Homo sapiens: one gene and its partners. The protein of the gene in region 4 interacts with the protein of the main gene of each other region in a pairwise test. Each region holds a gene or a part of one and is shown on either strand. Other genes may lie near its edges. The genes, in order: ELOVL4, RNF5, DTX2 and SEC22A.

Region 1 (7,022 bases), on a different chromosome or scaffold from region 4:
TGCCAAAGAATCTCTTCAGTTGGAGGGCTGACTTCTTGCTTGCCGTAGGGAAGGGAACAGGGATAAGTGTTTGACTGACTGACTTCTGGGAGTATGCATAGAAAAACCCTTGGGTGGGGCAACATATTACTATTTTTAGGATAAAGGTTTAAAAATACCACTCTCACTTACAGATGTAAATTTTCAAGTCTTTAAAAAATGAGCTATTATGAGAACTGTAATCTAGGAGGATAAAGAACCTGAGATTTGCAACAGATTTCATTTGAAATCTTCCTCGTGCTCTCTTCTCCTCTCTAATATGGGATGCAATAGAGTGAATATTTTACGCAGAGACTCATTTCTGTATTCATTGTTACGTAGCCAAGAAGTATCACTTTTTGGTGTAGTTTATTTAAAGATATCTAGTGCAGTTTGCAAACTAAGCAGACTTATTTGTTGTTATTTTATGTGAATTGTGGCAAATGTAGAGGTCCAGATAGAGGAGAAATAAGAGATTGTATCTTTCCTTCTAGTTAAAGGTTACGATGCCAAAATGGTGACAGTTACTTTATTTTAAAGAACTAATATAATAGTGAATATTAACTATAGTGTTGCTGGGAGTAGTTAACTATTTCAAGCTTATTTTCAACCAATTCATATCATTTTTAATGATATTTTTCAAGTAAATTCAGTAAATAATTCTCAGTTTGTAAATACTTTGTTTCTTATATGCTTTCTGTTTCTTCTTTCCCCATACTTTAAAATTATAATTTTGTTTTTCAAATGCAAAAGCCAAAACAAACAAAAATCTCATGACATATACCAGGTGCAGGTATAAAATGCAAAGGGATCCTTCAACTCTAAAACACCTAAGCCTGTCTGTGAATGAATCTGACAGGGCCCTAACACATGAAAGCTTATAAATAGATTTTAGTTATGTACTGCCTTAATTGTTATTTGCACATAGGATGCTTATCATAGAAAATACTTGACATAAAAAATTAAGTTTGGTTTACTGTTACAGTAGGATTCTTGTAAAACATTTTAAAACATACAGAGGTCACCTCTCACTGGATCCTTAATCTCAGTATGTAATGTAATCTTTCTGTACCATCTGGTGCCTTAATTAGAGCCCAGGAAAAGAAAAGACTTATTCATGTAAGCAGGATTATATTTATGACCTGGGAAATATTTGTTTGTTCATTCCAATTTTTTATTTTAAAGATTTAATACCTAATACAAACTGCTGTGATTGGATATTTATGTTGTTGCACATATTGGTGCAGTCGGAGAGGTGAGGGAGAGAGGGAGGTGAGGGGAGAGGGTGGGCAGACAGGCAGACACTTGTAGAGACCAGTTGCTACATGAACTTACTTGCAAGTTTTTCTGAGGTAGTATAATGTAGGCTAAGCATGAACAACTAAAATCATTTTACAAAGTAAACATCTTAGTTCCTCTACCAAGTTGAAAAGCACAGCAGTCTGAATGTGCTTCCAGCTCTGTATTCAGCAGTTTGACACTATGTAACATCTACCTATGGAATAGACAGAAAATGTTCTCTAACTTATTGGCACTGTATAGATAGAGCTTTGGACTCTTTCTTTTCTATTTTTCCCCATGGAGAGATGCTTAGGTTTTTCAAACCTACTTAGCCATTAATGATTCCATGCCTTGTACATTTTGTGCAATATACAAATGTTTATTTTGGACTTACTTACAATGAGTATAAACCCATACAATAGTGTCATTTTGGTGTTTATAACACGCTTTCCCTTTTTACAGATAGCTGCTGCTCTGTGGTGGTACTTTGTATCTAAAGGAGTTGAGTATTTGGACACAGTGTTTTTTATTCTGAGAAAGAAAAACAACCAAGTTTCTTTCCTTCATGTGTATCATCACTGTACGATGTTTACCTTGTGGTGGATTGGAATTAAGTGGGTTGCAGGAGGACAAGGTGAGCATTTTCAGGAATATACTGCTTGCGTTTAATTGCATATATGTGTTCAGTGGAAAGCAATGAGAACCTAGGACTTTGACTTGATCTACCATTTAACTTGCTTTCATGGTTAATCATTTCCATGTTCATTTCTTTTTTTTTTTTTTTTTTTTTTTTTTTTTTGAGATGGAGTCTCGCTCTGTCACCAGGCTGGAGTGCAGTGGCGCGATCTCGGCTCACTGCAACCTCCACCTCCCGGGTTCCAGCGATTCTCCTGCCTCAGCCTCCTGAGTAGCTGGGACTACAGGCACACACCACCACGCCTAGCTAATTTTTTGTATTTTTAGTAGAGACAGGGTTTCACCATGTTGGCCAGGATGGTCTCGATCTCTTGACCTTGTGATCCGCCTGCCTCGGCCTTCCAAAGTGTTGGGATTACAAGCATGAGCCACCACACCCAGCCATCATTTCATTTTTTAAAAAATTTGAGGCAAGTATAACTTTTGCTTTTTATCTGTGACTACTTTAATACCTAAAGATTTGCCCCAGAGATGAGCATAAACCAAGACTAAAGGTAGAAAACAATATTTTGATGGGGAACGGGTCTAGTAGTTCTGATCCAAAGAATACCAAGACACAGCCCCTCAAATCTGAAGATTTCCATCTTAGCCCATAGCTCACTCCTGCCCTAATACAGATTGAACATCCCTAATCTAAACATCTGAAATCCAAATGCTCCAAAATTCAAAACTTTTTGAGCACCAGCATGATACCACAGGTGGAAAATTACACACCTGACCTCATGTGATGGGTCACAGTCAAAACACAAGTGCAGAACACACTTTATTCAGTATACCTAAGGGAAAAAAGACCCTCTTAGCCCTTTTCCATGTACAGCATAATGTTGATGCCAAACAACCACAGATAATGTCCACACGGGTGACATCTTTGCTTTCTGATGTTCAGAGTACACAAACTTTGTTTAATGCATAAAATTATTTTAAAATTTTATAAAATTACCTTCAGGATACATGTATAAGGTGTATATGAAGTTTTGGATTTAGACCTGAGTCCTATCCCCAAGACACATCATTATGTCTATGCAAATATTCCAAAGTTTAAAAAAATCTGAAATCAGAAACACATCTGGTCCTGAGCATTTTGGATAAGGAATACTCAGCCTGTATAGGTCTTGTTGGTTCTTATTCAAAGGAAATTTTATATAGCCTTGTTAATGTTAAAGAGGATCTAAATTCATAGCTTGGCCAAGATCTGCCTCCTGTCTTTTCAGATGCCTGTAGATTAAGGATGATTCACATTGTTGAGCTTGATGCAGATTATTCCTCTGAGGAGGATCCAGGGTACAAGTCATTATAGTATAGTTCACCTTGCTGCTTTCCATTGTCATATTATGATAATTGGCAGCTTAGGAATTCATACATATATTATTGGGGGCCCAGTTTAAAACAATACAGTTAAAGGCAACTTCTGTAATTTTAAAAGAAAATTAGTAAATCTGAACTGACTTAGATCACTTTATGACAAAAATTAATTATTATTACATCTATACCTTGATTAAATTAATATTCTGAAAAGAAAGAATGTCATTGAGTTTGACTGACTGGAATATCTCTGTAGATTTATCTATATTAAATGAATTATTCAATGTGTGTAGTGCTGTCATATTTTAAACTATTTAGAAACCTAAGAAATAAGTACTGTTTTGTTGCAGATATATATATTGGCACATCTAAAGGCAAGAATAGTAGAATTAAAAGTAACATAGGCAACAGTTCTAAGGGCCTATTTAAGCTCACTGGAGTACTCCATTTGAAAACCTACAACTGTGAAAGTCCTTTGCATTTGAACATACATTTTTATTTATATGGTAAAACCTCAAATCTAAACTTTAAAAATATCTAGCTTAATCTGAAGGGAAAACTTTTTCATTAGTACTACTTTATATTTTTCATTTCTAATCTGTACTCAAGATTAAATATTAAAAAATAATGTGTATTCATTTATTGTACATCTCAGTGGCTTACTGCCTAATAAAATTTTCTGTATCTTGTAATTACCTGTTGTTTTTCTAAAGCATTTTTTGGAGCCCAGTTGAATTCCTTTATCCATGTGATTATGTACTCATACTATGGGTTAACTGCATTTGGCCCATGGATTCAGAAATATCTTTGGTGGAAACGATACCTGACTATGTTGCAACTGGTGAGTTAAATGCTTCCAAAGTTTCTTCTGGTAAAATACTGAAATTGTTTAAATTTGATTAATTTTAAAGTGCAATGTCATTTTAGACAATTTTCTATTATGAAATTAACTTTATCCTCCAGCTATATCGCAGTTATGCCCACTTGACTCTAGATGACCTATTCATAGACTTATTGGTCCCAGCAAATCTTTGTTTTTATAATATGCTTAAAAGACTAGACATAGCCCTTACTCCTCTAAGGAAAACATTCTCTAAAGATGTTTGTGGAAAGGATGATTAAAGATCTAAGCACGCTACAAAGTACGTAGTATGAATAGAAAAATAATATGTATTTTTTCCCTACAGGTGATTTTCTTAACTTAAAATTTTATTACCTTTCTTCATCTTGTCCTTGCTTAAAAATTTTGTTTTTTATTTCATTTTTCAGTCTTTAACATATCTCATATATTTAGACTAAACAGCTGAAAAGAAAGCACATAGCCAAGGAAGGGGTGGGGCAAAGGAAGGGAATAAGGGCAAGAGAACTCCTTGTAATTCTCTAAAACACTGTCCTTAAGAGAGCAGAGACAGATATTTTCAAATGGTGGTCTTTAGTCCAGACAGTTTTCAGCACATCCCGCTAGTAAGACTGTTTGTGGCAATCTGAGTGTGTGCATTAGTGTACCTTTCAGATGCTAGGCACTAGCCTGTAATCAAACTGGAAATTCAAAGCCAACCTGGTAACTATTTTTCAAGCTTTAGAATTTATTATAATTTGCTTTAATCATAGCATGTGCACAATTTTATCAGTGGAATCACATTTGGAAATAATATTCATCTTTGCTTTAAGTTGCTAAACAGCTGGCTAACCAAACAGGAAGCACAACTTTTGGGAAATGCTGGGTGCGAAGGATTCATTTGTAACCGGAGTGGTATAGGAAGCTTCCTCCAGTTTTTGTGTAAAAGCTGTTAACACAGTTTGTGTAATTCATTTCTCTCAGTAAGTAGTAAATGGACCTAAGAAAATGAAGAGGTGATCAAAATCATGTGAATTAGTCCTATCTGGTTTGTTGGAGCCTACACCTGGCTCTCCTTGAGTGATGCCATACCCAATCACACCCTTATACACACCCTTTTTGGTGATGCAGCTTCTAAAAACCATTGTGAAACCACAAGTTCTTCAAATTAAAATATTTGCCAAGGAAAATTATAAAAGTTTAATATAGTATAAATTTTTAGCTTACATGGCATACATTATTTTAATATTTAAAATAAGTAATACTGATTATTTTAATCAATAATTAATATTTTAAGAACAATGCTATCCTTAAAAGAGAAACCACAATTGTCCATTTCAAACAGGATGTTGAGTTTGTATTTCCAAGCCAGAAGTTCCCACAACAGTTAGTCATATAAGTTAATTGTATAAAAAGTTAACCCTTGTTAACATTATGTCTTGACCCATTCTTTTATTGATACATCAGAATCTATTTCATTTTAATCATCTCACTTTGGGCTTTTTTCCTTTTAAAAATTCTTAAAGTTGAAAGTGATTCTTTTTGTATTTATTCTGAAATATCTACTAAATTTTATCCAAATATTATTTTTTTCTTTTTTTGGGACGGAGTTTTGCTCTTGTTGCCCAAGTTGGAGTGCAATGGTGCAGTCTGGGCTCACTGTAACTTCCGCCTCCTGGGTTCAAGCTATTCTTCTGCTTCAGCCTCCTGAGTAGCTGGGATTACAGTCATGGACCACCACACCTGGCTAATTTTTTGTATTTTTAGTAGAAATGGGGTTTTACCATGTTGGCCAGGCTGGTCTTGAACTCCTGACCTCAGTTGATCCACCCGCCTCGGCCTCCCAGAGTGCTGGGATTGCAGGCATGAGCCATCGCACCTGGCCATCAAAATATTAGTTTTTAAAGGATAGTGTTCGTTCAAATAAAAATTTACCTGCCTACTATCTGTAAGAAATAAATGAGCCATTTTGATAAGCTCATTTTAAGTATGTGTATCTGCTTGCTGACAATTTGATAGAAAGAAACCAATGTAAAATGTGGGAGGAAAACAAAATTGAAGAGCCTACAATACTATTACTTTACTCTCCTAGGCCATTGATTCCCTTTCATCAGATAACATTATTCAACACATATTCATTGATCCTGATGCTGTGCTGAGGACTCAAGAATCACCGATGGGCAAGACAAAGCCCTGCCTTCTAGAGTCATTTTCTAGTGGAAAGATAGGCAATAAAGAAATAACAAATACAGAAGACAATTTCAAATAGGTATAATTCTCCTTAAAAAAAATGCAGAAAGCTCTTTGGTTAATGGGATTGGGAGGGCCAATTGAAATTGAAGTCTTGTCAGAGAGTCCTTACTGAGGAGATGGCATTTGAGTTGTGAATGAGGAGCTAGCCATGGGAGCCAGAAAACAATAAATTTTGCACAGTGTGGCAAAATTTGGGCCTGTGATAGCTATGTAGAAGATGCCGATGTTGTTAAAAGTTGTTTACTATTCAGATTAAATGTTTTGTGCTGTCATTTCTGTTTTTCAGATTCAATTCCATGTGACCATTGGGCACACGGCACTGTCTCTTTACACTGACTGCCCCTTCCCCAAATGGATGCACTGGGCTCTAATTGCCTATGCAATCAGCTTCATATTTCTCTTTCTTAACTTCTACATTCGGACATACAAAGAGCCTAAGAAACCAAAAGCTGGAAAAACAGCCATGAATGGTATTTCAGCAAATGGTGTGAGCAAATCAGAAAAACAACTCATGATAGAAAATGGAAAAAAGCAGAAAAATGGAAAAGCAAAAGGAGATTAAATTGAACTGGGCCTTAACTGTTGTTGACAGTGAGGAAAAACTCCCATATCATATAAAATTTCAGGGAAAACA
Region 2 (7,816 bases), on a different chromosome or scaffold from region 4:
GGGTCGGGGGGTGGAACGACAACGTGCCGCATTCCCCCCAATCTTTCTCCTCAGGAAGGCCCCAGAAAACCAGGAGGAAGAGGAGGAGCGTGCAGAACTGAATCAGTCGGAGGAACCTGAGGCAGGCGAGAGTAGTACTGGAGGGCCTTGAGGGGCCCACAGACAGATCCCATCCATCAGCTCCCTTTTCTTTTTCCCTTGAACTGTTCTGGCCTCAGACCAACTCTCTCCTGTATAATCTCTCTCCTGTATAACCCCACCTTGCCAAGCTTTCTTCTACAACCAGAGCCCCCCACAATGATGATTAAACACCTGACACATCTTGCTCTTGTGTGTCTGTGTGTGTGTATGAGACACAACCTCACCCCTATACCCTTGAGGGCCCTGAAGGAAAGGGACTCACCCCCATACTTCACCATACTATACCAAACATCTACTCAAGTTGGGGAGAAGATGCTTCTGTCGGGGGTGGGGGCGAACTTGGGAAGAGATCCCATCAATATATTTCACCTTTTTTATTGAATTTGTATTAAAGGAGGTAGTGAGGGGGCGGAAGCACTTAAGAGTCAGAATCCATATTAGACTCTGGGGAGTGAAAAATTAAATTAAATCAGTAAGATGGGGAGTGGGGGAAGAGTCAGAGGGAACTTTGCCCACCTTTGAAGATCAAATCAAGAAATCAGGGAAAGCAAAGACTTAGGAGAGGAGAAAGACATTCTCTCAATCCATCCTCCTTCCCCAGGGCAGAGAATTAAACAACGTTACTGAGTGAGCCTCTGAGCAGAAGGCTCTCCCATCTATGCACAGACTTCACTCCTCCTCCCCAGGCCTTCCTGGACAATGTCCAGGGCTGGCCTTAGCCAACAGAAATAGAGGGGTCAAGGGGGTCCAGGAGTACGGAAGGGTCAGCAGGGACCCTCAATACTGATTCTTCTCTGGCTGGAGGTGGGCAGGAAGCAGACATAGCTCAAATACTGAGCAGCCAAAAAAAGAAGAAGATGGCGAGAAACAGGAAGAGGGAATCCTGCCAGCTGGAGGCTGGGTGACCCTGTCCCAGATCCACACCTGTGGGAGAGAGGAAAGCTGTGGAAGCATATGCTCCTAGGCTGGGAGGGGGCCTGAGGGGATTCACAGGGCTCCCTGATGGGAGCTGAGTGTGACTCTTACCTGTACCCCGGCGGAAAGGCTCATGGGCATTGAAGACGGTGGTGAAAAAGCCAAAGGGAAAAGCACCAACACCAAATGAGAAGTGGAAGCCCCCGGTATCACCAAATGGCTGGAATCCCTAGGGAGGCAGAAAAAGTCAGACAGGAAGCCGGCAAATCTGTCAAGGAAGGGACACAACTGGACAAGAAGACTCACCCCTCTGCTCTCCGGAGCTGGTCTCTGGCCCTGGGGGCGGGGTGGAGTTTTTAATCTGAGGAAGTGGAGAGAGAAAGTTAACAGGGATTTTTCTCCTCCCATCTTCCACACCGTTTTCCAAGGGCAGAAGCCTTCAATCTTCCCTAAGCAACACCTCCAGTCTCTCACCTGGGATCCTGGGGCTTCTGGCTCCCTCGCCCATAAAGCGGGACAACCTTCTCTCTGCTGATCCCAGCTTTACATACTGGACACTCTTGCCGTTCTGGCCGTGTCTCCAGCCACTGGGGAGAAAAAAGGTGGTTTCCAGTATACAAGAGGGTCTTACAGCTCCTCAGACCTCCCCATTTCCCTCTTCATCTCCTGAGTACGCACCTGATGAAGACATGGCCAACTGGATGGGGGAGAAAAAAAAAAAAAGGTCAAACTAGCTACAGAAAAGAGAGACACAGACCCTAGACTTCGCAGAATCCCATCTAACCCCTCTTCCCAAGCAACCTGCTGTTGCTTTTCAGATTTTCTGCAACCTCTACCATGCCAGCCAACTTAGTTAGCCTTCCTGCTTGTCTGATCTTCCAACACCTAAAGCTCTGTCCATCCTCAACACACTCAACCCTCTCCTTTCTCCTCTCCCCAACAAACACATACAAATTTTCGTGCCCTCTCTTTTCTGCCTTTCAAGTTAATTTCTAATTTCCTTCAGCCACCTCTTTCTGGGTCTCCTCTTTTCAACCCCAACCCCATCACTCCAAACCAAACCCCTTTACTAGCACATTCCCCCATTACTCACTTTCAAGCTCAATAATGTCCCTATCTTTATGACCCTTTAACCTTTCAAGTCTGCCTCTCCACAGTGCCCTTATACCAGCCCCCTCCCAGATCTCATCTGAATGTGATCCATATTTCCTGGTTCTCCCCGACTCAACTGATGCGTGCCTCCCTTAACCTTTGTGTCTCACTTGTTTCCACCTGCACAGCTAAGACCCCTCACTTCTCTGGGGTAAGGTGGCTCGGGTCTCACATTGTCCTGCCACTCCCCGCCCCACCTTCTCTTCTCAGCACATCACGTGCCTCAGCTCCTGGTTCCTAAGACCTTTCTTTCCACAGATCTCGACCGTTATACTCCCACCCACACATACCAGCAAAGTCTTATGTCTCCTGTCGGGCTTCACCTATGGGAACGTGCCCTCCGATTATCTGTATGACTGTATGATTATTCGCTCCTAGCCTCTCCAGTATATAAGCGAGACCCACCACCTCCCGCCCCCCTCCTCGATTCTCACCAGTACAGGTGGCCACACACACTGACCACAGCTTCCCGAGCAGTCTCCAAACATATATTACATTCGAAGGTCGCGCCCGCCCCGCCCCGCTCGCGATTTGGCCCTTCGGGGCCCCCGTCCTCCTCCTCCGCTGCTGCCATGGCCGGTTTTGTTTCGCCCCACGTACCCTTCAGTCCCCCCAAATACACATACACACGCCCCAACAAACCAGAAACCACCTCCTGCCCACGATCGTTGGGCAGGCTTCAAGGTTTCCTAATCACTATTGGTCTGAATGCCTGCCAGTCACAAAGAATTCAAAAGAAAGGATTGGCCCAAAGGGTAGGGGCGGGAAAAGGTTAGTGCAGTCCTGCCTTCGCACAATGGCTATTGGCTGATACGGTCTAAGTCAATGTGCAATGCCAAGGGATTGGTAATAACTCGCTACACGCTGTCGCCTGGCCAAGGAGGGCTTTATTCGTCTGAGTAGTTGTCAGTCATAACCAAAGCCATAAGCAATTTGCTCGGGACTACCTATAGACCTCGCCCACTATAAGCCCCTTTCTTTCCTTCGCTTCCTCTTTTAGAGAATGTCCGGATTGCTATTGGACTTTGGAGCGTATGGCTCCAAATCAACTCATTGGCTAAAACTTGACGGAAAATGGTGGTTAGGTAAAACGCGCCTGCGCAGCACGCGGCGGGACGGGGGTGGGCCAATCCTGTGAGGGTTTAACCTTCTCTTTTTCCACCTCTTCACCCCTATCTTGTCGCCATGGTGACTGCTCTACAATTGGCGAGGCTTGCACTTCAAAGTCCTAGGCTCGCTTCATCCGGGTCCTTCAGCTGTGGACTTTCTGCTGATTGGGCCTTTTCCTTTTCCCCTGATTGGCCGACATCGGGAAAGACGGCGAAGAGCTAGGAAAAGAGGGAAAACACTAGGGTCGCAGGGTTCAAAATGGCTCCAACCTCCTTTGGTGACGTAGAGAGCAGAACTTGGGTCTGCCCCTCCCTTTTAGTTAAGGGAGCAGAACTGGGATTAGCCCGACGTTTGGATAGTGGGAACATCGATCTGCGGCGCTGGTGTTAACCCAACTCATTCGGCTGGACGACTCAGCCCTCCCCATATTAGGTGATTTACAGAGCAAAACTGAACTAAAGGCCCACCCCTTTCTTAATGTTGTACACAGAGTAGAACAGGATTGACTTCAACTCCGTTTTAAACCTTCAGAGCAGGAAAGCTCTGGGCTCAACCCCTTTGTGAGTGGTGCAAAAGGGACAAAGCCCGCCCCTTTTAAGGAGACCCGCGGAGGCTAGACCCGCCCTTTCCTCTTTATAATTTGCCCATCAGAAATAGGGTCTTCTTCCCAGGTTGGACCCCGGGGAGTTTGGGCTTTTCCTACAATCACTGACCCTCACTGTGACTAAAGGAGCAGAATTAGGTAACAGTCCTCCCACTACCAATCCTCTTCCCGAGGGCATGTAAACTAATGCAGGGTAAAGGTGTGGCTAGAGGGGGGACCTTGATAAAAGATCCCATGTGACTCAAGAGTAAGGAAAGATGAGAAGTTAGCAGTTGCGTAAAGAAGGACTGGGGCAGATGAGGATTCAGGAAGCTTGAGGTTTAGGAAGGAAGATATTGAGAGGGAAAGGTGGAAATGAAGGAGAGTGAAGTGATGGAATGATCCTAGTAAAGGGATAATGGGAGTGGAGGAAGAGAAGAGGGGGTGGAAAACTAGATACATGGCTACCAAATTAAGGAGGCACGCGCATTCCAGAGGAATCGGCATTCTTCCTCACTTTTTATTTTTCTAGAAAGCACCCCTGAAGCCAAATTTCCATTGGAAGAAAAGATGTACCCATATTGTATGTTGTGAGAAGGGGTTGTCTCAGCTTGGGCAAGTAAGGAGACTGATACGAAGGAAGTAGGAAAGAAAAGGTACAGAGGTAAAAGAGCATGGAAAAGGAAAGGGTCAGGGATAAGGCCAAAGAGATCTCTTCTCTTTAAAGGCCAGAGAAGGCAGGTGGAGGGGGGAGCTGGACTGCTGGGAGATAGTGAGGGACAAAGGGCAAAGGAAACCAGACCAGAGGACTGGAGAGTGAGATGGAGTGAGATGGAGTCCTGGAGAGAAAAAGAAGAGAGGTGAACTTAATGCTTGTCATATGGTAGGTAGATGCTTGATAAATGTTTAGAATTGAATGGGTACGGGAAAAGGGGTCCTTAAGAATAGTTGGGGGGAATAAGCAGCAGATAACCGGAGTTGAGAAAAAAAGAGACCAAGTAAAAGTGGCAGTTAAAAGAGAGCTGATGGAGAATAAAGGAAGGAATGTGCGGAAGGAGGAATACAGCACCAGGGGATCCAGAGCTGAAAGGGAGTTAGAGAAAAAAAAGATGCAGCTGGAGCCAGAGATGGGGGCAAAGACCGAGGGAGAGCCCTGGGGCGGGGCTCGCAAGAGGACACTGGTAGATGTGGGGAGGAGATGCCAGAGTTTCTGGGAGACGATTGGCAAAACAGGCTGCCCATCACCGCCCTCCACTTCCTGGCCGGCCCCGGAAACCAGCAGGCGTTGGGGAGGGGTGGCGGGGGAATAGCGGCGGCAGCAGCCCCAGCCCTCAGAGAGACAGCAGAAAGGGAGGGAGGGAGGGTGCTGGGGGGACAGCCCCCCACCATTCCTACCGCTATGGGCCCAACCTCCCACTCCCACCTCCCCTCCATCGGCCGGGGCTAGGACACCCCCAAATCCCGTCGCCCCCTTGGCACCGACACCCCGACAGAGACAGAGACACAGCCATCCGCCACCACCGCTGCCGCAGCCTGGCTGGGGAGGGGGCCAGCCCCCCAGGCCCCCTACCCCTCTGAGGTGTGGGCGGGAAAGGGATGGGAGGAGGAGGGAAGAGGGTGCTGAAAGCGACTAGGATGAGGGGAAGGGGAGAGATTGGGTCTGGGAGGGCCGACTGGGGGAGAGGGTTGCTGGGGAAAGGAGAGGGGCCGACTGGGAAGAGGGTTGCTGGGGATAGGAGAGGGGACCTGAGAGGGAGGAAGGATGGAAGAGACCTGGGAGGGAGGAGAAATGGAAACCCTTGTGAATTTGGGACTGGGAGCGTGCACAGGGAATCCTGGAGAGGGAATTCCCTACACCTTCCCCAATTCCTTTTCTTGCCCTTTGACCCCACATGACTCTTGAAGGGTCATGAGGGGAGAAGGCCAGCAGAATTTGCCTCTTAGGAATACCCTTAGGTGCCTCTGTTTCCATCTAGGCACAGGACCTCTTGTTTCTCAGTGGCCTTCCACACTGCTAGACCCTTACTGACACACAAATGCCTTATGGGAGCCATGTTTTCTACATTGAGTCTGTGTGCCTTTGACATGTTTAATGGCTTGTGTGCAACTAGGTTGTCCCAATGCTATCCATAGGCTGTGTAGAAATGGTGTGTTATTTTCTATCAGAATTGCCCATTCTTCATTCTTGTGTCCATGTCTCACATCCAGTTTTGACATGTTTTAAGTACCGCATGTGTGTGAGTTTTCATATATTGCACCTGTTCTATAATTTCATGTTACTTGCACATTTTATGTTTTGGCATGTTTATTTCAGCATGTGAAGGTTATATACCTTATTTTGCTTTGGCTGACATGTCCATGGTCCTACCATTTGCAGTAGTCTTCATGTGTGGGATCCCATGGCTTGGCTGAATACCCCACACTCTGATGTCTGACTGAATTGGCCTGTTTGCTGTGTTTTCCCAGTCACAGTTCACAGAACACATGTGTATGCGCCTTTGCATGATACACTGATGTAACAGGACCATAGAATGTGTGTTATAAATTTGTCATCAGTATATTTTGTGAGCCGTATGCTCATTAAATTTGGCCCTCCATTGCATTTCTAAATCCTTGGACTTTTGTTCTCCAAAGAGGGTCACTTAATATCAAGTGTTAAGAGAAGAAGGTAACTGGGTCTCCAGGTCTGCAAAGAACCATCCCTGCATGCCTTACCTTGGTGACCTCCCTGGCCCATACCTCTCTACACAAACATTATCTTTCCAGTGGCTGTGTACAGTCTGTGTCCATGAGCTCAATGCATGTCACAGGGTCAATCCTGCTGTGAACCCCATTGTTGGTATTTATTTATGGACATTATCCTCCATTCTTTGCACTGTTGGCACACATTTGATGAGAGCAGCATCTTTCCCTGTGGCATCTTGATCCCATTCGGTACATTTCTCTTGTGAGATGACCTCTTCCTGATTATTGTTACTCTGCCTTCATTATGGCTATGTATTGCATGTATCTATTCAGAGTCGGTTACCATTAGGCTTGGTGTGTTCGTTACTTTCTCAGTGACTTCTTTTAGTAGTCACTTCTACTCAAGAGGATAACTATCTAATTTGTGATCAGAACCGCCATCTCTGTCATTAACTGTGGCTCTATGGGTGGGTATACAGCCTTAGAATCTGTTCAGCAAGTGTTTATTGAGCACCTACTCCATCTCCTATTGTCCTGGCACTGGAGATAAGACAGAGTCCCTGTCCTTAAGCTGCTTACAGCCTAAGGAGGGAAACAAAAACGCCAGTCAACACATAGTGTGTTGTCAAGATCAGTGGTTCTTAAATTCAGGCGCACATCAGACTCACCAGAGGGCTTGTTGAAATACAGATTGCTAGCCAGCCACGATGGCTCACACCTGTAATCCCAACAGTTTGGAAGGCTGAGGCAGGAGGATCGCGTGAGTCCAGGAGTTCAAAACCAGCCTGAGTGACAGAGTGAGAAAAAGAAAAACAGATTGCTGGACCTAATGCCCAGAATTTCTGATTCAGTAGATCTGGGGTGAAGTCTAATAATTTGCATTTCTATACTTCGAGACCCGCTGATCAAGATAAAAGTGTAAGGAAAGCACAGGCCTGGAGGGGTTCAGGCAGCCCTCCAAAAGGTGACACTGAGCTGTGTGAGGCAGGAGAAGAGACAGGCATTCCAGCCAAAGGGAACAGCATGTTCAAGGTGGGGAAGCATGAAAGATCATGGTGTCTGAGGAACTGAAGTGAATCAGTTTGACTGGAACAAAGAGTTTTGTGAGGATGTGGTCGAAGATGTAAGCAGAAGTCAACTTATCAAGAAGAGCCTTTAGGCAAGACAGGGAAATGCTCTGTGTTTCAGAAAAATCTGTGCTAACAGAAAAATCTCTGTGGTTGCTACGTG
Region 3 (6,805 bases), on a different chromosome or scaffold from region 4:
GGCGTGAGCCACTGCACCTGGCCTAATTTTTTTTTTAGAGATGAGGTCTTGCAATTTTGCTCAGGCTGGTCTCAAATGTCTGGACTACAGTGAGCCTCCTGTCTCGACCTTCTGAGCAGCTGGGATAACAGGCATGCGTCACCATGCCTGGTTCAAGTCATTGCACCTTTGAACCTGTTTCCACATCAGTAAAACAGAGACAGCAGCTCCAATCCTAAGTGAATGGCATTTTGTGAACCACAACCCCAGGGCCACAAAGGTGACAGCTGGTGCTCTGGGGTGACAGCCTCTGGCATGGCAGGGAGATCAGTGTAGGGCATGTGGAGGCCGCACAGCCCAGTACCGTGGGCTCCTCCATGCCTGGCTGTGGCCTGTTCTTCAGTTATCAAATGGGAGCCGATGAGCCCATGGAACCCCCTCTTGCTCTGATGCAGGAAGTGGGGGGGGGCACACACACACACAAGTGCGCACACACGCATGCATGCACACACTCAGGACCTGCTGGCTTTGGCTATAGAGCATTTATTGCAAACAAAATTGAGGTAAAAGAAGCTGACCCAGAACCCACGCCCGTCCAGGCTGGGGAAGTCTCTACTCGCCCCACACCAGGCCCCGAGCACCGCGGGCCCGAAGCAGCCCCCAGAGGACAGACGGGCCCTGCGCACTGAGGTAGCTGCATCCTAAGCCCCCATGAGTACAACTGCCCAGGGCTGCCCAATTCCCAGAGGGGAGGAGGAGAGAGAGGCAGGCAGGGGGAGCCCCGGCTTCAGGTGGGGCACACCCCACACCCTCAACAAACCTCCCAGCCTCTCGGGCTGGGCACTTCCTGCCTGGCCACCCAGCCAGCCATGGGGCAGCGGGGTGGCCACCAGAGGCGGGCGTGCTGGGGTGCGAGGTCACTGCTGCTCCAGGCAGTCCTCGGTCACCCCCTGGGCAGCCAGCTCAGCCAGCACGTTCTGCAGGTAGTTGGGGTCGGGATAGCCGTGGCCCGTAATGTTGCGGTCCATCTCTGTCTTGTGGTGGATCTCGTTCCATACCACGGTGTCCGTCTCACCCGTGGTGCTGGACGTGCCCACTGTGAAGATGAGCCGCCTCTTCCAGGCCACCTTCAGGAGCTCTAGGACCTGCCCGGGGAGGAGGAGGGGGAAGAGGAAGGAGGGGACGGAGAGTGAGAGGGGCTCAGTGAGCAGGCACGGGTTGGCACCATGTTCTTCCCATCCCAGCCCCTCCCAGGTGACTCATCCACTCCCTGGCACTCACCCCATCTGCAGGGACCCCAAAACTGCCCACTGGATAGTACATTAGGATCCCACATGAACCTGGGCTCCAGCCCACCCCGCCTCAGTGCCTGGCACTGCCATCCGTTTGGTCCTGATGCCCAGGCACCATGCTCGAGTCCTCCCTGCTTCCACAGCCGTTGCTGGACGAGCGCCCGCCCACCCACCCTCCCTGGTGGAATCCAGGCCTCCCTGCCCTCTCCCTGCCCTCTCCCCGCCTCCAGCTCCGCCACCTCAAGCCCATTCTCACACGGCCAGAGCTTTTCCAAAGCTCCATCAGCAGCTCCACCTCCGTGGCTTCGCTGGGCGCTCAGAACCAGCTCTACCCCTGGTGCTGGCCTGGGGGGCACCCTGTCTTCACACCCACACCACGGGCTCCCACTATCCTGCCTTCCTGGAAGGCTCGTCCCCAACCTTCTCTGCAGCCACAAAGTCCCTATTCATGTCTCAGTGCAGACACCACTGCTCCAGCCTTCCGTGGTCACCTGGTCTAACACAGCCCCCGGTCCCTGCCTGTCACACTCTGACTCTCAGGAGCTCCTGACCCCACCCGGCAGGGTGCTGGAAGGTGATGGCCTCTCCTCCTCCCTCGAGGCTATGTGAGGTCCAGGCTGCCCTCCCTGTACCTACAGCAGGTCCCCAGAAAAGAGCAGCAGACACTCGGCCCGGCCTCAGCCTCTGTCCTCCGCTGCAGAAGCAGAGTCCAGTGTGGCGCCTGGCCTCCTGCCGCCTGGTCAGGGCCCCGTCCACCCCCCGGGCGCATGGTGGCACTCACCTTGCGGCCCTGGGCGTTGTCTGGAAGGTAGCACTGGCGGGGAAACCCTCTGGCAGTGAACGGCTTTCCGGGATTGGGGTGCTCAGGGCCCTGCGGGAGGAACAGACACCAGGATAGGGTGCTCCGAGAGCCCGCACAGGGACAGGCCCCTGCACAGCTCCAGCTCCTCCCCCGCTCCGAGATGCCAACCCCGAATGTTCCTGAATTTCCCTCTGAGCTGTGGAGAAGTGGAGGGAAACCAGGGGAAAGGCTCATGGTTCAACAAGACAAAAAGATGCCTCCATCCACCACAGGTGGACCTTGGCTGGCAGCCAGTGCCCGCTGCCTGCTGCCCCGTTATCTTCCCACCCTGCCCCAGGCCCTACGATCCACCTTGGCTCAAGACAGGAGACCGAAAGGGCTAGGGCCCGTCTGAGTCTCCTCTGGGACTCTGGGGCCTTGTGCCTGGGCTCCTGACACCCACACGCCTGGCCCTGCCACTCCCAACCCAAGGTTCCTCGACGCACACCCTGCTGTGGCCCCGCTTCTCCAGCCCCTCCGCAGGGTTCCTCCCACTGAACTGCCTGCCCTTCTGCCCAGAACAAGTCCAGCTAAGATGGCTCCTCCTCTAGGAAGGCTTCCTTGGTTCAGGAAAGAGTGGAGGGCCAGCCTTTTGCTGCCACAGCCCTAAGAGCTTACCCTAAGCCCCGGCACTGCCTCCCCATTCCCGGCCCTCCATGGCTCTGGCCTTAGGGGACCTGGGGGCCTGAGCTTGGCCACATGGGCATCCTCAGCCTTGATCCAGGGGCAGACTGCTGGGATGTGGGCGGGGTGGGAAGAGGAGTGGCCAGGAGTGGGGGACTCAAGAAGGCCCCTCACCTGGATACCATGGGGAATGCTGTAAACTATGAGGATGGTCCCGCAGTCCTCGTGGCCGGGGAGCGACATCTGGAACCGTAATACCTCCATCTTTCCCTGGGGCTGGGTCCCCGTCTTCTCTCCATAGATGGTTTTGCAGGAGGGACACTGCAGACTTCCATCCTGACAGAGGCAGACGCAACCCACTGAGCTGGCAGTCTGAGAACACCCAAGACCGTCACCTCCACCGTCAGATGGTAAAGGGCCCCGGGAATGGGCTGGCCACCATCCCAGGGAGTTGCTGGCAGCCTCCTGCCCGGAAACTGGCTTCCAACAGCTTCCCTGGAAAGCTTTGTTTTGCACCAGCAACTCATGCCATTTTCGTTAAGGGACATGCTATCAGGAGACAGGTGGCGAGTGGGAAAACTCGGATCCTGAGCAGAAATCTCCACGGGTGAATCGCATTTGCAGTCGGATAGACAGCCTTGCAGCGTCTGATCTGCGGAGCTGGGCCCTGGCTGCCCAGGATGGCAGACACTAGGGAAGGCCGAGCCAGGCTCCGATGCGCCACATGACTCGGTTCTCTAAGCCTCTAAACTCTGCCCATCCCGCCTGAAGGCCGATGCAGGGAGAGCAGCTGGGGGTCAGTCTGGGCGCGGCTCTTCATGTGTAGGCTGCTGTGGGGCCCAGGATCAGCCCTGCCTCAAGGCCTGGCTCCCACCTCCCAGTGGGGTGACCCTGGGCACAGCCCCTGCTCTGAGCCTCTCCCTCATGAGCACTGTGCTGACTGCACAGGGATGCTGTAAGGAAGAAGGGAGACAGTGTCTGCGGTGCTTACAAGTGGCCGAGGGGGAGGCGGTGCCCTGGGGCTCAGAGAAGCCCAGAATCTTCTCAGGCCTGGCTGGAGGGGTGGAGGGAACCAGCCGCACTGGTCCTCCTTTCTAAAGTGTGGGGCAGACCTAGAAGAGTAGGGCAGGCCTAGGAGAGCCGGCCAGGCCTTTAGAAAGGTCTTCAAGCTGGCCCCACGCCCAGCACCATCTTTTGCAGAGGCCCATTCCTACAGCCACCCCCGGAACCCTCCCGCCCCTGCAGGGGACAGCTCAGGACTGTGGGGGCGGGCCACCCGCCTCCGCCCTGGGCCAGTGGGGGCACCTTATTGCCGTTGCAGTACATGGCCAGGAGGCACAGCAGGTGGAAGGCATGGCTGCACTTGGTGAGGTGGCCCACAGCTAGGGACCCGATTGCCTTGCTGTCAGTCACATCGCTGTATCCAGACGCTGTGGACAGCTTCTCCATGCAGATGATGCAGTCCTGGAGGAGACCAAACATGGGTCATGCTCGCCAACAGTGGGCTGGGCTGACGTGGGCCAGTCTTGGAAAAAGAGGCTTTCATGTGCTGAAATGCTGGAAGTGCAGTCAAAGTCAATTCCGAGGCCAGGCGCAGTGGCTCAGGCCTGTAATCCCAGCACTCTAGGAGGCCGATCACTTGAGGTCAGGAATTTGAGGCCAGCCTGGCCAACACGGGAAAACCCCATCTCTACTAAGAATACAAAAATTAGCTGGGCGTGTTGGCAGGTGCCTATAATCCCAGCTACTCGGGAGGCTGAGGCAAGAGAATCGCTTGAACTCAGGGGGCAGAGGTTGCAGAGCTGAGATTGTGCCACTGCACTCCAGCCTGGGTGACAGAGCGAGACTCCGTCTCAGAAAAAAAAAAAAAAAAGTCCATTCCACAGGCTGGAGACACAGGTGAGTCACCGGGACCTGTGCCTCTGAAGGGCTTACCAGCAGCACAGGCCCGACATGACAGCAGAAGCCACCAAATGGGGAGGACGGACAGGGCAGGATCCTGGGGGAGGCCCTCGGCGTGGGGTCTTACAAGGGAGACAGGAATTGCCAGATGGACAAGCACAGAGTGGGCACCCGGAAGAGGGAGGAGGACGTTCTGAACGAGGAGCCAGCTCATGGGCACTAAAGCTGGCAGGGGGTGGGCTGGGAGCAGGAGATGAGACAGGATCAGGGAGAGGCGCGCCCTCGGGGGTCTGGCTGCCACACTCAGGGGCTTGGGGCTGTGTGTGAGTTGGGGGTCCTGCTGGCGGTTCCAGGCAGGGAGTGCTCCCATGATCCAAGCTGCGTGCTGGCTGTGCAGACGGCAGCTTGGAGAGGAGGAGCCTGGGGTGAAACGGCCCAGTCACACCAGATGGACACCAGGGCCGAGACAGAGCTGAGCGCTGGGCAGGCGGGAATGTGGCAAGGGCTTGTGGAAGGGGTGGGACACATGAGGAGGACGTTCAGGCTCCTTTCCAAACCTTTACTTACCAGATTTTTCTCATGGACTCAACAGACTGGAGAAAGAGACAAGTGAAGAGTCCCTGGGTACTGGGGCTCCTGGCCTTCCACCCGCCCCCAAGTATCTGAAGATCTCTGGGTACTGGTACTCCCGGCCGTTCACCCACCCCCTCCCCCAACAGTATCTCCAGGGCTCCCAGCTAAAATCAGGGGAAAGTGGTGCTGCAGCCCCCAAAACGTGGCTCAGTAGAGGTTCAGGTTCTATGGAAGCGCAACAGGAGTCTGATTGGTCCTGTTCATTACAGGAGGTCAGGAGGACAGGGCTGCAGTGAGCTGTGATCACGCCACTGCACTGAGCCTGGGCGACAGTGTGCACCCGTCTTTAAGAATAAAAAAATTATAAGAACCTTGACCAGCTCTCCCAATAGCCGGGGGGCAGGACAGCCACCTGGACGAGGCCACCTCACTTCTACACCAGCATCCGCAAGGTGGAGAGTGGGGCAGGCTGGCCCATCCCTTGTCTCTGGAATTCCTGCTCCCAGGATGGCCATCAGGCTATGGAGAGGCCAGGGCCGGGAGAGGAGGGGCTTTGCTCAGGACCACAGCTCCTTAAGTGCAAAGCTCAGACCATAACGATGTGGGTCTCGGGAGGCTGGGAGATGAAACCAAAGGGGCTGGAGCAAGGCCCTGGCACCCAGAGGCACCTGGGAAGCACCCTTCAAGCAAGATGGGGCGGATGTCCTTTCCATGTGGAGTTGTTTCCAAACAGAAACAAAGGCAGCCAAGGTCCCAAGACACAAACCTCATCTGGGGGCACTTTCAGCTCTTCCGTGTAGTTTTTTATGACCTGCTCTGGCTCTGGCTCTGGCTTCGGGGTCGCTCCTAGAAGAGAGAAGTACATAAGCAGCGTCCTGAGGAGCACAGGCTGGAGAGGAGGCCAGAGGGCGAGGAAGGGAAGGAAGAGGTCTAAGCTGCCAGGAGGAAATGCGAGAGGGGCCCAGACAGGGAGGCCAGTGTGCGGGACGGGAGAGCTCAGCGCCAGGCACAGAGCCCCGAGCTCCGTCGGGCAAAGCCTTCCCCAGTCCCACCGTCCGGGGACCCGGCTCAGCCCCAGGAGCCATGGAGGATGCAGAAGAGCAGAAACAGCAGCACAGTCTCCTGGGAGCCGCATCCCCGCGCACATTGAGTGAGGAACCGACCCCGGCGCTTCTGAGGCTGCGCGGAAGAGTCAGACAGCCGCTTCGGGCACAAACTACTCCAGGGGGCGTTGTGGCACCACGATTTGATTCAACTTGCATTACCCTGGCATGAACATCACAGGGACAAGGGAGTCTGGGGTCCAGCATGTACAGGCAGCTGCACACACGCCGACCGCCACACAGACACTGTCCCGGGAAACGCCTGCCACTGACTGGGAAGGTCTGTCACATGCAGACTAGCTCCTAAGTCCAGCGACTCTGGGGAGGGGCCAAGACGTGGCAGGAGCCCACCCTGACGGCCTCACTCGCTGTCTGTGCACACGTGCACGAAGCTGGAGGGAGAAGGGCTGCATCTCCATAAACACCGAACCCCACATCCAGTAAAGCCTCTCCTACGGACAAGAAGCTCCTGAGCTGGTGAGGATCGGCGC
Region 4 (7,306 bases):
CCCGGGTTTAGGCGATTCTCCTGCCTCAGCTTCCTGAGTAGCTGGGATTACAGGCATGCACCATCCTGCCTGGCTAATTTTTGTATATATACATTTTTTTTTTTTAAGATGAAATTTCACCCTGTCACCCAGGCTGGAGTGCAATGGTGTGATCTCGGCTCACTGCAATCTTTGCCTCCCAGGTTTAAGAGATCCTTCTGTCTCACCTCCCGAGTAGCTGGGATTACAGGCATGCACCACCATGCCCAGCTAATTTTTATATTTTTGGTAGAGACAAGGTTTCACTATGTTGGCCAAGCTGGTCTCAAACTCCTGGCCTCAGGTGACCCGCCCACCTTGGTCTCCCAAAGTGCTGGGAATACAGGTGTGAGCCACTGTGCCTGGCCTAGTTTATTTTCTTGAATCTATGGGTTTATATTTTTTATCAAATTTTGGAAAATTTTGGCCATTATTACTTCAAATATTTTGTATCACCTCTCCTTTCTGAGTCTCTGATTATACATGTTAGATAACTTTGTATTAACCATAGGTCACCAAGGCTGTGTTCATTTTATTTTAAACTTTTTTTCGCTCTGCACTTTAATGTAGATAATTATTTTTCACTGTTACTTTGTTTACTGATCTTTTCTTCAGCAGTGTATAATCTGCTGTTAAGCCCATAGAGCAAAATTACCAATTCAGATATTGTAGTTTTCTGCTCTAGAAGCTTGATTTGGTTCTTTTTATGGTTTTCATTTATCACATTATTTATGTTTCTTTAAATTCTTGGCCATATTTATAATAGCTTCTTTAAAGTTCTTATCTTACCTGCTTGTAACCCCAGTGCGCTGATGCCCTCTAAAACTTAAAAAAAAAAAAAAAAAAAAATTAAAGAAGAAAAGTGAAGTTCTTATCTGCTTTGAAAACTAATTTCATCATCCTTGTCATTTCTGGGTCTGTTTCTATTGACTGATTCTTCTCCCATTTGTGACTCATGTTTCAATGCTTCTTCACATGTGTAGTAATTTTTTATTGGATACTAGGCATTGCATATATTACATGGTTAAGTACCTGAATTTTGTTGTCTTTCTTTAAAGACTGTTAAGTTTCATTCAAGAAAGCAGTTAATTTACTTGCAAATCAGTTTTTTCAGCTTTGTTCGAGTGGGTTTAGAATAGTCTTTACTATTGGGCTAATTTAGCTTTAAAGTGTGGCCTTTTTAGGGTCTCTTTACCAAATGCTTCAGGTTTTAATAAGATTTAATAAGATTTCCCATTCTAATCAGTCAGAGCCTAAATGTTTCCAAACTCTATTCAAGTTCTTGTAGCTGTTCAGCTTAAATTTCCCCAGTAATTGTTATTTACCAGCCTCATACAATCTATCCTTAAAGTTATACCAAAGATTCACAGGAATCCTTATGTATATTTCTGGAGCTCTTTCTCTGGCACCCTGCCCCACAAATATCATTTGTCTCAATCTCTATTAATTCCAATTTCTGTGTCCTCAACAAACCCTGCTTGGCTTTCTTCTATCCTGTGCTTACCTCCAGAAAGAAATCTGTGGATATTCTGGGGACTCATCTTGTTTGTTTTCCTTCCTTCCAAGATCACAACTTTACTATGCCAGTTGTCCAATGCCTGGAAACACTTGTTTCATAGATTTGGTCCAGTTTTCCGTTACTTGTAGTGGAAGGTTTAGTCTGGTATCACTTATTTATTCATGGCTGGATTGCTCTTAACATTTGGAAAAACATAAACTTTCTATTCAATAGTAAAATACATACTGGAAAATTTCATAAATATAGCATACAGCTTGATGAATTTTCTTTTCTTTTTCTTTTCCTTTTTTTTTTTTTTTTGACACAGGGTCTCACTTTGTTGCTCAGGCTGGAGTGCAGTGGCACAAACATGGCTCACTGCAATATTGACCTCCAGGACTCAAGCAATCCTCCCACCTCAGCCCCACAAGTAGCTGAGACTACAGGCGTGCACCACCATGCCTGGCCAATTTTCAGAGAGGGTTTGGCCATGTTGCCCAGGCTGGTCTTGAACTCCTGAGCTCAAGTAATCTGTCTGTCTCGGCCTCCTTGGCCTCCCAAAATGCTGTGTTGGGATTACAGGTGTGAGCAAGCCACCATATCCAGTCCAGTGAATCTTCATTAATTGAAAACACCATGTAATCAACACCTGGATCAATAAGAACATTACTAGATCTCCAGTAGCCCCTTATTGCTCCTTTCTAATTATTAACACTAATAATTATAACTTATTGGTTACCCTTGGGTAACCAATATTTTACTTCTATTACCTTATATGATTTTTTATTTTGAACATTATGTAAATGGAATCATATAGTAATCTTTTTTGTGTCTGACTTATTTCACTCAATTTTTATGATTGTGAAATTCATGCATGCTTTGCATATGGTTGTAGATTATTGTCTTTCCTGTATAGTATTCTACTATGTGAATATTCTTCTTCCTTTTTTTTTTTTTTTTTTTTTGAGAAGGAGTCTTGCTCTGTTGCCTAGGCTGGAGTTCAGCGGCATGATCTTGGCTCACTGCAACCTCTGCCTCCCAGTTTAAGCAATTCTCCTACCTCAGCCTCCCAAGTAGCTGGGATTACAGATGCCTACAACCATGCCTGGCTAATTTTTTTGTATTTTAGTTGAGATGGGGTTTCACCATGTTGGCCAGGCTGGTCTCGAACTCCCAACCTCAAGTGATCCACCCCCGCCCCCGGCCTCCCAAAGTGCTGGGATTACAGGCGTGAGCCATCGCGCCTGGTCAGAATATTCTAAAATTTATTTATTTCATGAACATTCTTATACATATGTTTTCTGGTGAATATATGAATACATTTATGTTGAGTATATATCTAGGACAAAATTTATGTTAGTTCAGGCCTTTCTTCTGAACTCTAGACCTACATATCCAAATCTACTTGACATCTCCATTTATAGGCATTTCAAATTTAACATATTCCAAACCATTTGCTCCTCTTTCTGTGTTCCATGAGTCAGTAAATGGCTTCTTAATCCATCTAGTTACTTAAGGAGTCATCCTTAATATTCCTTTTTGTTGACCCTTCCCGGCAAACCAATCCGTTATGAAGTCCCTTGGATACCATTTCTAATTTATACATATCTTGAAATTATCTACCTCTTTCTGTCTCTAACTCCCATTACACTAGTTCAAGCCCCATCATTTCTGGCTTTGCCTGACGCAACTGCCTCCAAATGGCTTTCCAGCAGCCCTTCTTGCCCTTTTCCACACTATTCTCCACAAACAGCCTGAGTGATTCTTAAATATGCAAATAGGATCCTACTTAATAGTCTTTATTAGCTGCCCATTGACCTTGGGCTGAGATGAGACAAGGGCCAGACCATGCTGACTCTTATTGGCCACATTACAGATTTCAGGCTGTATTTTGGAAGATATCTTAAGGTCAACGGGCAAAGTTTCTCCTTGCTCCCTACACTCCATCCACACTGACTCCCTTTTAGTTCCTAGAGCACAAGAAGTTCTTTCATGCCCCGACAACCTCACACAATATTTCCTTGGCGGGGAACATTCTCTAAGGCTCTTCAATATGCCTGCCGCTTAAAAGGCACTTATTCAGAAGTCTTTTCCCTGATAGTCCAAAATTAATTGATCATTGCACCCACTAATTTTCCCTCCCAATACTGACAATTTGTAGTTCTGTAACTATTTATGCTTTAATATCTCTTGCTCCAATTACTCCTTAAATTCCATCAAGTGTTATGTCCACTCCTGTAACCCCGTGCTTAACACGGTGCTTGGCACATGGTAAACAGTCAGGAAATGCCTGTTTAATAATGCATGACCGATGCGAAGGCTGGAAGGGGTCGCAGGGTCAGCATCTGGCACTTCTCTGCCATGGTTAGTTTCCTTCTTGTGTGTGGGAATAGACGGGGCCAGGTCTTCTCCTTGCTCACCCAGAGGGGGCTTTTCTCCCTGTCCCCTTTATAAGTGTCTGCTGTAGGGCCGCGTGTGAGAGACAAAATGCCTGCAGAAACAGGGCGGCGAGCGGAAGAGATTGGCCCTATTTCTGAAGTCAACGTAGTTCTGTCATCAGAGGATGCTGTACTTTTCTGGCGCAGGTGCGAGAGAAGCTGCCAATCTCTCCTGGAGCGGGTGGGACTAAGGAGGGCCCCGGGAGCTGGGGGGTTGTTGTGTCCTTCCTGCAGAACCCGATTGGCCTGGGTGAGCTGAGGGAACGGGGGCGTGGTTTGATTCCGCGGGCGCGAGCCACGTTGGACGCGCCGCAGCGTCGCCGAAAGGTCCCTCCCAGGCCCCACAATGCACTTCGGGGCGCGTCACTCGGAGCGGCGGGTCCCGTCTCGACAGGTACTCCCCGGCCCCTCCCAGTCCTCTTCTTCCTTTCTTAGGGGTCGTTCGAATCCCTGCCGGCCTCTCCCCTCCCGCTCCCTGCCTCTCGCCACAGCCTCGGCCTTCGCCCTCGGGATTGAAGACCTACCCCACGGGCAGGAGCCAAGTCCGTGCCTTTGGGATGGGAGTCGGGGCCGCGGAGCTCTGGAGGGACGGGCAAGCGGGGACCCCGTCCCCTTCGACTTGAGGGTTCTCTGGGGCCAGGCGGGCGGCGGTTGCGCCTCGTCTGAGCCGCCTCGGGTGTTGGGCAGCCAGGAAAGGAGTGTTTGAAGGGGAGGGACAGTCGCACTTGGCTGTCAGCATGGTGGTGGGGATTCCCTGGCGCCCAGGTGTCAGAAACACGGTGATCTACCTGTGTAGGTGGCCCATGAGAGCTTGAGGTGGCATTTCCTATTTCTTTTAGGCAGAATGGGACTTGAACCAGTGTCTTACTTTACGTTTTGTGGGGATGGAGTGAGCCCTGAGCCCAGATATTTGCCCGCGTTGGCTCACGGAAATCTCTTGAGACCCTGTCTCAAGAGTCACTTTGGGAACGATGTGGCAGAAGGGAGACCTGAGCAATTGGCTCGGCAAGTGGAGGAGGCTTCCAAAAGAAAAGGACAAGCCCCAGCTGGCTTGAATCTCTCTGCCAGTGAAGACAGCTTAAGATAATTTTTCCCTGCTGCTTAGTTTCCTGGATCATCCACCTGGGGCAGGGGGCGAGCTTGAGAACCAGTCCCTCCTATGCCTATTCAGCCAAGGCAAAGCCTAGCCCAGAGCAAAAGTATCAGCCACCAGACTGGAGATGTTGGGATCTTCAGTCAGGGGAACAGCCACTTTTCAAACTCTGAATCACTTTCCATGTTACTGATATTTGCTTACATGCTAAGATTGTAAGGAATCAGGCAATGCCTTAAACGGTACCTACAATTTCTGATATATTAAGGTTCATTCAGTATTTGACTCTGACACCTGTGACCATATCCTAAAGTAATGGGACATTCGGGTATTTCCTATGTTGAAAACCATCACATCTGTTTAGTGCCTTTTTTTTTTTTTTTTTTTTTTTTTTTTTTTTTTGCGTGCAACTGGTTAAAATCGAAGTATATCTTATGTTGGTATATGAAAGAGGCCTAGGTCTTATCACAGGGGTGCCTGTGACCTTCCTTGAGTGTCTCACAGAGTTGTTAGAATTGGGCCTGAGTTTAAATCCCTACTTTGTCACCTACTCGTTTAGGGATTAAAAAAAATTCCTCAAGCTTTCTGGGCTTGAATTTCCTCAAAGGTAAAATGGAACTAATAATACCTATCTCACAGGTTTTTGGAACGCTTAAATGAGGTAATGTGTATAAAGTGCGTGGTCCATGGAGAGTAATCAATAAATAATACAGCAAATATTTAATGTAGTGCTTTTAGCATGTTACAAGGCAATGTTTCAGGCACTTTACATGATCCTATGAGATAGATACTATTGTCATCTTTAAAACAAGCCTATGAGATAGATGCTATTAGTAGCCACAATATATAGATGTGGAAATTGAGATATAGAAAGGCAAAGCTTGTCCAAATTTACATGGCTGGTAGATGGTGGAGCCAGGATTAGAACCCAGGCAGCAAGTGAATAGATAGTTTCTATATCCCTGGTTTCTTGTGTCTTGTTGGTTTTGGGAGACTGATGAAGCATAGTGATGTAGAGATACTAGAAACTTAGACCGAAGTACCAGTTCTGCTATATACTAGCAGTGTGACATTGAGAAAGTGAGCCTTAGTTTCCTCATCTGTAAAATGGTGGTTTTACCTACCCAACCGTGAACTATGTGGCACTATAAAAATGTTGGGATTGACACATTTGAGCATGTATTGGGGGCCCTGTCCTAGATGTGGGTAAAATCTGTTGTGAAGCCTGAGGTCTTATACATACTGTGCAGTGCAAGCACCCATAATAGGAATGTCGAACACTGCTAGTGAGGTAGAAGGCATAGGCAAAATGGCGGAAATTCCATCCCCTTTATCACCCACTCTATCCCCCACCCTCAGCGAGCACTTTTAATAAAATAATATGTACCATATTGGTATTGTTTCCCAAACTTTGGTACTGTCACATATGCAAGATAATTTGATAAGCAAATGAACATTAAAAAATTCTCCCCAAATTTTCACACACATACATATTTGAATGAAACAAGTTCATTTAATTTAAATTAGGAGAAAAACTTAACATCTCAAAACTGATTTCACAGATATTATTGCTAAAAAATAAAGGACAAGAAAAGTAAGTCAATTCAAAGACCAATATTAGGTAAATAGTACAGGTGGATGAAGATAATTCTGAAAGTGGTACTTGGATGACTGAAGACTGGGAAGTTATGAACTAAAATAAATATGAGTGCTTTTGCCCCCAGTATAAAATGTTTTTATCTTAAAAGTGGCATTTGTGAAAGCATTTGGTTAGAACGTATATACAAAATCCACTTACATGTTGGGCTTTGTTTATTACCTTTTGAGAGATAACTTCCTGAGACATTGAGCCTGTAGTCATTACCCCTACAAGGTTCTGAAGAAGAGGGGTGTCTTATTATCTTGGGTCCAGGAACTTGCTAACCACTACTATAGTAGTTTGGCATTGTGGGAATTTATTTTCCTCAGCCTTTACATAAAAGTTTACCCAGATTTACCTAGATTCTAGCTTGTGCTTTTTCCTCCAACAGTTGCTGATGGGGAGAGGAAAAAATAGCCACTATTCAGGTTCCCTGTGAGTTAACTGCTGCTGTACAAAGGCAGGTGTAATATTTTCTCTGTATTAAAGGTGAGGAGAAATGGCCCAGTGCCCTAAACATTTATCTATGGCCCCGATAAGCTAAAAACTCCTAAATCTTCCCATGCAATTGTTGTAATCTCTTGCTTTCCACAGTTCCACTGGTTCTTCCTTGGGATTTT

Evidence for each region.
Region 1: the proteins of SEC22A (region 4) and ELOVL4 interact in binary tests that used the Homo sapiens proteins (3 or more experiments, as listed by UniProt).
Region 2: the proteins of SEC22A (region 4) and RNF5 interact in binary tests that used the Homo sapiens proteins (3 or more experiments, as listed by UniProt).
Region 3: the proteins of SEC22A (region 4) and DTX2 interact in binary tests that used the Homo sapiens proteins (3 or more experiments, as listed by UniProt).

What each region holds. Positions count from the first base shown.
Region 1 is NC_000006.12:79,916,536-79,923,557, reverse strand, and holds part of ELOVL4 (very long chain fatty acid elongase 4), read left to right. Parts: intron 1-1,761; coding exon 1,762-1,933; intron 1,934-4,010; coding exon 4,011-4,138; intron 4,139-6,674; coding exon 6,675-6,950; 3' UTR 6,951-7,022. UniProt on the Homo sapiens protein: Catalyzes the first and rate-limiting reaction of the four reactions that constitute the long-chain fatty acids elongation cycle.
Region 2 is NC_000006.12:32,173,478-32,181,293, reverse strand, and holds RNF5 (E3 ubiquitin-protein ligase RNF5), read right to left. Parts: upstream 2,890-7,816; 5' UTR 2,783-2,889; coding exon 2,643-2,782; intron 1,754-2,642; coding exon 1,735-1,753; intron 1,644-1,734; coding exon 1,531-1,643; intron 1,479-1,530; exon of another isoform or gene 1,418-1,478; coding exon 1,363-1,417; intron 1,286-1,362; coding exon 1,168-1,285; intron 1,066-1,167; coding exon 968-1,065; 3' UTR 501-967; downstream 1-500. Other genes in the region: AGER (advanced glycosylation end product-specific receptor isoform 2 precursor), read left to right, coding at 55-151; AGPAT1 (1-acyl-sn-glycerol-3-phosphate acyltransferase alpha), read left to right, coding at 4,782-4,784. UniProt on the Homo sapiens protein: Membrane-bound E3 ubiquitin-protein ligase that mediates ubiquitination of target proteins. May function together with E2 ubiquitin-conjugating enzymes UBE2D1/UBCH5A and UBE2D2/UBC4.
Region 3 is NC_000007.14:76,499,693-76,506,497, reverse strand, and holds the end of DTX2 (probable E3 ubiquitin-protein ligase DTX2), read right to left. Parts: intron 6,058-6,805; coding exon 5,978-6,057; intron 4,294-5,977; coding exon of another isoform or gene 4,279-4,293; exon of another isoform or gene 4,264-4,278; intron 4,201-4,263; coding exon 4,042-4,200; intron 3,073-4,041; coding exon 2,911-3,072; intron 2,143-2,910; coding exon 2,053-2,142; intron 1,125-2,052; coding exon 897-1,124; 3' UTR 507-896; downstream 1-506. UniProt on the Homo sapiens protein: Regulator of Notch signaling, a signaling pathway involved in cell-cell communications that regulates a broad spectrum of cell-fate determinations.
Region 4 is NC_000003.12:123,197,639-123,204,944, forward strand, and holds the start of SEC22A (vesicle-trafficking protein SEC22a), read left to right. Parts: upstream 1-4,304; 5' UTR 4,305-4,348; exon of another isoform or gene 4,349-4,496; intron 4,497-5,450; exon of another isoform or gene 5,451-7,175; intron 7,176-7,306. UniProt on the Homo sapiens protein: May be involved in vesicle transport between the ER and the Golgi complex.